2 linked regions of the Homo sapiens genome follow. The protein of the gene in region 2 purifies or fractionates together with the protein of the main gene of each other region. This does not show direct contact. Each region holds a gene or a part of one and is shown on either strand. Other genes may lie near its edges.

Evidence for each region. The genes of interacting proteins can lie anywhere in the genome.
Region 1: the proteins of UST (region 2) and SLC27A6 purify together in Homo sapiens (affinity purification with mass spectrometry; 3 studies listed by BioGRID and IntAct, with this or other methods). This does not show direct contact.

Annotation. Positions count from the first base shown.
Region 1 is NC_000005.10:128,963,632-128,967,377, reverse strand, and holds the start of SLC27A6 (long-chain fatty acid transport protein 6), read right to left. Parts: upstream 1,891-3,746; 5' UTR 1,241-1,890; coding exon 760-1,240; intron 1-759. UniProt on the Homo sapiens protein: Mediates the import of long-chain fatty acids (LCFA) into the cell by facilitating their transport at the plasma membrane.
Region 2 is NC_000006.12:148,744,783-148,748,528, reverse strand, and holds the start of UST (uronyl 2-sulfotransferase), read right to left. Parts: upstream 1,500-3,746; 5' UTR 1,099-1,499; coding exon 852-1,098; intron 1-851. UniProt on the Homo sapiens protein: Sulfotransferase that catalyzes the transfer of sulfate to the position 2 of uronyl residues in glycosaminoglycan chains. Has mainly activity toward iduronyl residues in dermatan sulfate, and weaker activity toward glucuronyl residues of chondroitin sulfate.

The sequences.
Region 1 (3,746 bases), on a different chromosome or scaffold from region 2:
TTTCATATTTCACTTCTATTTCATTAAGCAACCCATCTTCCTAGCTTCTTTACTAATTAGCCACTAAACCCCAGGCTTTTCTTTACAGTTCAGTGAAAATACGTGTAGCCTAAGATGTCCTAACTCCAAGGCAGGGGGAGGAGGAAGGGTAGAACTTAGTCAAAAAAAGAAAAGGATGCATGGAAGGATAAGAAGAAGAAACAGAAAGGCTCCTAGAGTCTGCCAAGAGCCCACGTTCTGGCTCACAGGTGGGAGCGCAACCTTGCTAGGCAAGTCCTAGCTTGCAGACAGTATAAAATAAGAGCAGACATGAAGAAAGGAATTCAGGTACCTTCCTTTAAACATATCTCTTCTGCAAATGTAGTCATCCCTGATAAAGTACAATTAGAGGTAGGTAGACGTGTCACAATGAAGTCAGATAACTTTCCTATTCACCATTTTGTCAGAGCTGATAAAATTTAGAAGTGACCAAGTTCTCTGTGTGTTCTTGCACTCACTGAAGGAACCAATAGCAGTAAAACTGTCCCTGTCTCAAAATGGTAGGAAGCAGAGATTTCATAAAAGTTTTCTGAAACTACGTGCCTGAAGGGAGGAGACAGTTGTTAAACCAGCATAGAATCATAAAACTATTTTGTACTCTTAACATGCACACTTCACTCACCCAAAATATTAGTTACGAATTATCCTAAAGAAAAAAAAAAGGGTATGAAAGCAGGTGGGCTGCCATTCTGTATAGGCAGACCACACCCCATACTCTACCTGCGCCCACCACTAGGGCTCTGGGCCCACAGGCGCGGATGCAATTCAGGAGGGAGTTGGAGCGAATGTTGGTGTTGAGAAAGGCCACCACGCAGCCCAGCTTGGCGAGGCCGAACCACACGTGAACGAAGTCCGGCTCATTGCTCATCAGCAGAGCCACCGTGTCCCCCTTTTTCAGAGAGGAATGGTTCAGGAAGACATGGGCCACTCTGCTGCTCCTTTTGTCTACATCCTGATAGGTGTAGATGTCTCCCTCATAGATGATGAAAGGTTTCCGAGGTTGTCTTTTGGCATGACTCAAGAATTTATCCAGCACAGTCACCAGCTCCCCTCTCTTTTCATACTTCTTCAGCCGAATTATAATGAGCACCACCTTCAACACGAACCAGAAGTCATCCCAAAAGTAAGGGAACAGGAGTTTCTGCAAGAAGTGCAGGACGACCATTCCAGCCCCTAGAACTGTTAGCCATGACAGAAGCATGGGGGCAACTGGGCCAGAAGACAGCTCTGATCTCAGCCCCCACCAGCGTCCTTCTCTTCCAGGCACAGCTCTCCACGGAGACCGCAGATCCTCACTACTCAGGGCTTACACCTGAAGTTCTTGTCAGCTTTTCCGGGGCGAAGCGGGATGGGGAGGAATCCTGAGAAACAGAATCGTAGGTTTGCACCGAAAAGGTCGCCCCAAGTGGTGCTGAAGATTAAGCTTGGGTCACTGGGCGGCTGGAAAGCAGGGAGCCTCCGACTCCTGCGAGAAACCAACACAGCCACCCTCAGGGGTCTTGGAATCTACAACCCCAGCGCTGCGCCCTCGCCTCCCAACCGCGACAGCGGCCCGTGCCCTGCGAGTTCCCCAGGACTTTCCAGACCTCTTCTCTGTGAGGGCTGAGTCAGTCCTCCCTGCTTCTGCGACCCTAAACAAACCTCACCACCCTCAGAAGAAGGTCCAGGGACAGAAGCTTTTCTCCTCTCAGGTAGTCTTTCCCGCGAGCTTGAGTTGGAGGCTGAATTCGAGCCGGGAAAAGCTGGGATGATGATGACTGAGAAGCGCAGCGATTTACAGTCTCTACGCACCAGAAACCGCGCAGGGGCTCAGCACCACGTCTCGGTCCGTGGCCTCAGGGCCAGCGGGTTCCAGGGTTCCTGAGCGCCGCCCCCGTCCTGCCCCGCCCAGCCCCGCCCAGTCCCTCTGACGCAACGGGTCCCGGAGAACTGCTCCTTGGTGACCCACGCGCCCGCTGGAAAGGGGTGCCCCTACCCCAGCCGCAGCTCGCACTCCGAGTGTCGTTAGGCTAGCCTAGTGTATTCTCCTCCGAAACATGGTGGGAGTGTTGCCTGCCCACCTTCGGCCTCCAGGCTCAGGGCTAACCACATCCCCTGGCGTGCCGCAGCCGGAACAGCCTGGGCCCCGCCGCCAGCTCCTCCCTGGGCGCGCGTCCGGCCACCTAGAGAAGTGTGGCGCGCCGACCTGCTCACACCCCAGGGAGGAGGCCCCGCGACTGGCGTCTCCGGCGGGGAAGAATGTGACAGTCCCGTGGGGGGAAACCCAGGGATCTGGAAGGCTTGGGGTCACAGGAGAACCAGAGTTGCTGGGATTGGGCGGCGCGGGGGCCCTGGCGAGGCTGATAAGGTATAACAGTGTCGCACAAAGGTCATCCATTGAACCAATTAATAACTAGAAAATGGAAAGAAAAGAACAAACATCAAAAAAACTGCAGGGAGAGAGAGGCAGGGAGGGAGGAAGAGAGGGCAGGAATATTTATGAACTGGACAGATCCAATAATATTTTGTAAGAAAGAAAGGAATATTTGGACACCACAAAATTGTACTGTTCTTTACAAAAAGTATTTTTGAAAACATGTTGATAGGTTGGTTTTTACATTTATATTAGAACTCTATCGTTAGAGAGCTAAGACAGTGCGTTTTACAAAATTTGGCAACAATATTGATTGATTTGAGAGCTTCAGTCGATATTCGTATTTAAAAATAAAAACAAAGTTTATAATGCTATTTGCAGTCCTTAAAAGTAACAAGATCCCCCCTCCCTGAGACAGATCATTTAAAGAATTATGTCTTCAAACTAAGGATTCTAAAGGGAGTGGGGAGGTGGAGTGGAGAAGTAACAAGTTAGTGGAATGGTTAATAAAATTTTATACGAAGATGAAATTTTACTAAAGATCAAAAAACTAAAGAACATTTCATTACACTTTTTTTTTTTAGCAGACACCATCATCCCAGCTGTCTGCTTTTAAGTGAGTATAAATGGTTAATTGCTTGTGTTAAAATAGTTAAGGAAGGCCTCACCTTGTTAGGTGTTTCTCCCTTCTGCCTCATGTTCTGCAGATGGATTCTGGCTAACCTCAGATTCTGTAATAAAAGAAAAACTGATAATTCCAAAGACGAGCTCCAGTTTATTAATCTGAAAATGATTACTTTGAAGTCACAGTGAAGAGCTCTTAAAGCCAAAGGAACATAGGCTCTTAAAGCCCTTTTCTGTAAATGACAAAAAAATGCTTTCTAAATTTACTCAGAAGCTTTGATCTTTTCGATTCAGAAATATCTTTTTAATTAAGAAAATAGTATCAAGTAGTTTATAACTTAAAACATTAGTTTACAACTTGAAAAGCATCTTTGACATTCTATTGTTTTCTCTTCTAGCTTTAGTCTAATTAAGTCACCTCCAAATAACAACATTTAACGAACACAAAAGAATATGGAGCAGTTGGTCTCAGACTTTTGTAGTTTTAATGAGTAAAATCTGTCCTTCTCCAGTGGAAAAAATAATACAGAAAGATAGGCGTGGCATTTCTTTTATTTTGCTGCACTTATTTTTCTTATCATGGACATTCTAATACCATCCTAAGGCATGGAACTAAATTTTTAGCAACTACAGATACAATGAATCTAGAATATATTCAGCACCATAAATGTGAGCTTGTTTGACTTATTAGGAAGAACTACAAGTAAGCATATGTTGGGCCAGACTTTGT
Region 2 (3,746 bases):
TGGAGCGGCTCTTTCCCTCCCGTCAAACCCCTTCCTTACTTCTGCTAAAGACAGGCGGCCTCTCTCCTAATAAACCACACACACACACACACACACACACACACACACACACACACACACACACACACAAGTTTTGACTTGAGCTTGAGACGCACACAGCGCCGAGGATCCTCGGGTTACTGGGGGCGACACTGCTGGCCAGGCTGACCAGCGCCCTCGGGCATCCCCAAACCCCTGGATGCAACCCGTTCCCCGCGCCAGGCTAGCTGCGGGCGGCGGGGTGGGCAGCGGCAGCCAAGGGACAAGCCAGCCCGGGGACAGCGCGGAGCCACTAGGGCCGGCGGGCAGGCGGGGGATCTGCGGGACAGAATTCTCAGAGCGGACGGTGGCAAAGGGCTAAACCCACCCACACTCCCCGGGGCGCGGGACGGGACTGAACTGCGGTCACTAACAATGCAACGAAGAGGACCTTCCCTTCCCTTCGCCACTCCCCGCGCCGCCAGGCCTGAAGATACACACACTCCGGCACACCCCACACACCCATCCACTCCGCCCCAGTCCGGATCCGGGTGGCGGAGGTGGGGCGGGGGGAAGGTGAGCGGTGCCTCGCCCCGGGGTACCTGCCGGCAGCGCAACCCAGCGGCGCCCCCGCCTCGGTGAGGACAGTCGGACGCGCGGGAGGAAGAAGGCGCTCCCGACCGCGGCACAGATGCTCACGGGCTTAGCACCTGGAGAGACCCGGGGCGGCGGCGGCGCGCGGTGGCAGCGCGAGAAGTCCCCGCCGCGACCCTCTCCCCGCCGCACAACTTTGCGCTGTCGGCGCCGCCCTAGCGCCTGCCCAGCTTCCTTACCCAAGTACTGCCGCAGGTCGAGCAGGAAGCGAGGGGGTCCCCCGCTGAGCTGATAGAGGAGGGAGCCCAGGCAGAAGACCAGCAGGGTGGCCATGCAGAAGCCGTAGTCCCGGAGGGAGAAGCGCAGGAAAGGCAGCAGGGGCACCCGACGCTTCCAGCTGCCCAGGCCCGGAGGGGCGCCCCCCATAGGGGCCCCATGGGGCCAGGGATCCGCGCCGCCGCCGGGATGCTGCTGCTTCTTCTTCATCGCCTGCTCCGCTGCCTCCCACAGCCTGCCCGTGCCAGGAAAAGGTCACCCATCCGCCGCGAGGAGGAGAGCCCGGCTGGCCGGCTGCACATGGGGAGGGCCGCGCGGAGGGCAGCCGGGTGGGGGCGGGGAGGGGCCGAAGTTGCCGGGCTCAGGAGACTTTCTTCGGCATGGTCCCCGCCGCCGCGGCCCGAGCGGCCGAGGTGTCCGGCCCCGGTTCGGGGCGCTGCCCGTGACGGGGCGCCGCGCCCGTCCGGCGCCCGCTAGCGTCCCCACGCCCCGCGCCCCGCCGCGCCTCGGGCTCGCTTGCGGCCGCCGGGGCTCGCCTCCAGCGCCAGCGTGGACCCCCCGGCTTTGTGTCTGTAGGTCTCGGCGTGTTTTGTCCCGGTTCAGGCTTCTCTAAAAAACGGCAGGGAGGAACAGGAGGCGGACACCATCCCCTCGCTCCACCTCCTTGACAGGGGTTTTCCTCCTTCTCCTCCCCTTTCTCCCTCCGGCGCTCCGCAGCACTCTCCTCCCTCTCCCCTCCCTCTCCGCTCGGGTCTCGGGATTTCGCTCGGGTGTCACGTTACTGCTTCTGCTGGGGGCGGAGGGGGGGAGGCGGCGATTATTCGCAACAAGGAAGAAAGTTTCTGGGTGTTTTCTTTTTTTTTCCTTCCCCCGTTCTTTACAATCTGGATGCGGTTCCTGCGCCACCAGCGACCTCTTGGGGGCCCCGCTGACTTCCCTCTTGTAAACAGTCACCGGCAGGAAGAAGCACGACTGACTTTACTATTTACATTTTTTTCAGTTCAGAAAGTTGATTCTCCTTATATACCCCGTGCGAGCTGCTTACCCAAGGCTGATAAAAGGTACTAGAATACAGGCTCAAGACTTTGCTGAAATGGGAAAAGAGCAAGCGGTGCGAGTTATGGTCAAACACGCCCCAGAGGGCCAGGCGCAGCGCCTGAACTCCCGGGTAGGGTAGCCGAAGAGGACGCTCTGTTCTTGCTTTTCCTGGTCCTACAACTGCTCCACCTCGCAGTGCCCAGAGAGGCAAGTGGGGGGTGCATAGCGGACTCTAGGAGGTCATTGCCCTGCAGACATGAAGGGGAAAGAGCCCAGTCCGCCTATACGCTGATTTCATTGCTGCCTCTCTTCCCTCCACGGGAAAGCCTCTGGACCTGAAAGAACCTCCTGGGGCAGAAAAGGCTCAATCCTAGACATAGATCCTCTGATGGGGTGGTTGATCCACGGAAGGGCTGCTCTGATCAGCCACACTTTAAGTAAGAATACTATATCACTATTTATAGAAGCTGTAGCACCTGAGGGCTGTGTGACTCACCCGAGGTCCCAAAGCTAGTAGTAGGAGTTGGGTTGGGAGTTGCACTCAAATCTATTTGACCCTCAGACCCACTATACTAACCACTGCACAGCAGTACTTCCCAGCCAGAGCCCTTTTCCTTCACGTCCCATAGGAGGATGAGATTTAATTCATTTAGTTCAGGCCACATTGAGAAATGGAAACCTCAGTTTCTGGTGCCTATCATTTCTGGCTCCCTACTCATTTGTATATTCCAGTAATGAACAATTGGATTTAAGAAGGAACCAGGAGCCAAGAACCTCTATGATTCTAAGACTAGGCTCCTGAAAACCTTCATCAAGTTAGGCATCTGAAGAATATTCTGTGGAAAATTACAAAATATTATCCTAGACAAAGAACTTACTCGTTAAGAATATGTCTTAACCTCAGCTACTCAGGAGGCTGAGGCAGGAGAATCGTGTGAACCCGGGAGGCGGAGGTTGCAGTGAGTCGAGATCGCGCCATTGCACTCCAGCCTGGGCGACAGTGCGAGACACCGTCTCAAAAAAAAAAAAAAAGAAAGAAAAGAAAAGAAAGAAAGAAAGAATGAATATGTCTTAACCATGTTCATATATGAATGTCTCTGGTTCATGATTTGAAACATATATCATGAGCTAGAGAGATGTGTAGATGAGGTGACAGGTGCTGCACACACACAGAGACACACGTACACACACACAACTCTACTGTCCAATTTTACATTGTCCTAGCCCACTTTCTAAGGGATGAGAAGGCTGTTTTGGGGCCCCAAGAGAAAAGAAAATATTTTGTTCTGTGACAGAAAACCCTGAATAGAGTGTTAATCATTTGCTTTACATTTATCTCATGAATCAGGGTTTTATTTGGATTAATATGCACATTTTAGAAATGTGACTTCCCCTAAGAGAATTGAGTAGATCAGTCATTGCCCATTAATGTGAATTACTTTAATCAGTACAATGAGTAGCCCAGAACAGACTCCCAATTAATAACGTTTGAGCTTAAGAAGAGGGACTAGGAGACAGAAGGAGCAAAGCAGTGTTCATAATGTTTCAGGGACCGCCTTCCACAAACTGGACCTGTATCTGAGGCCTGGCCCTGTAATCTGAACACTCGCTGGATATAAAATAGTGTGCAAGACCCTCTGTGTTCACAAGTCCCACCCCCAGGAAGTTCAGAGACTTTTCTCACAGCATGCTGTGGGAAATACCCCAATTTTTTCTCCTAAGGAAAGGAATCTGAGGAACAGGGAGATGGAGCAGGAAGAAAGGAAACAAACATTTGAGAAAATAAGTAAATATGAGAATAAATGTTGTTTTAAAAAACG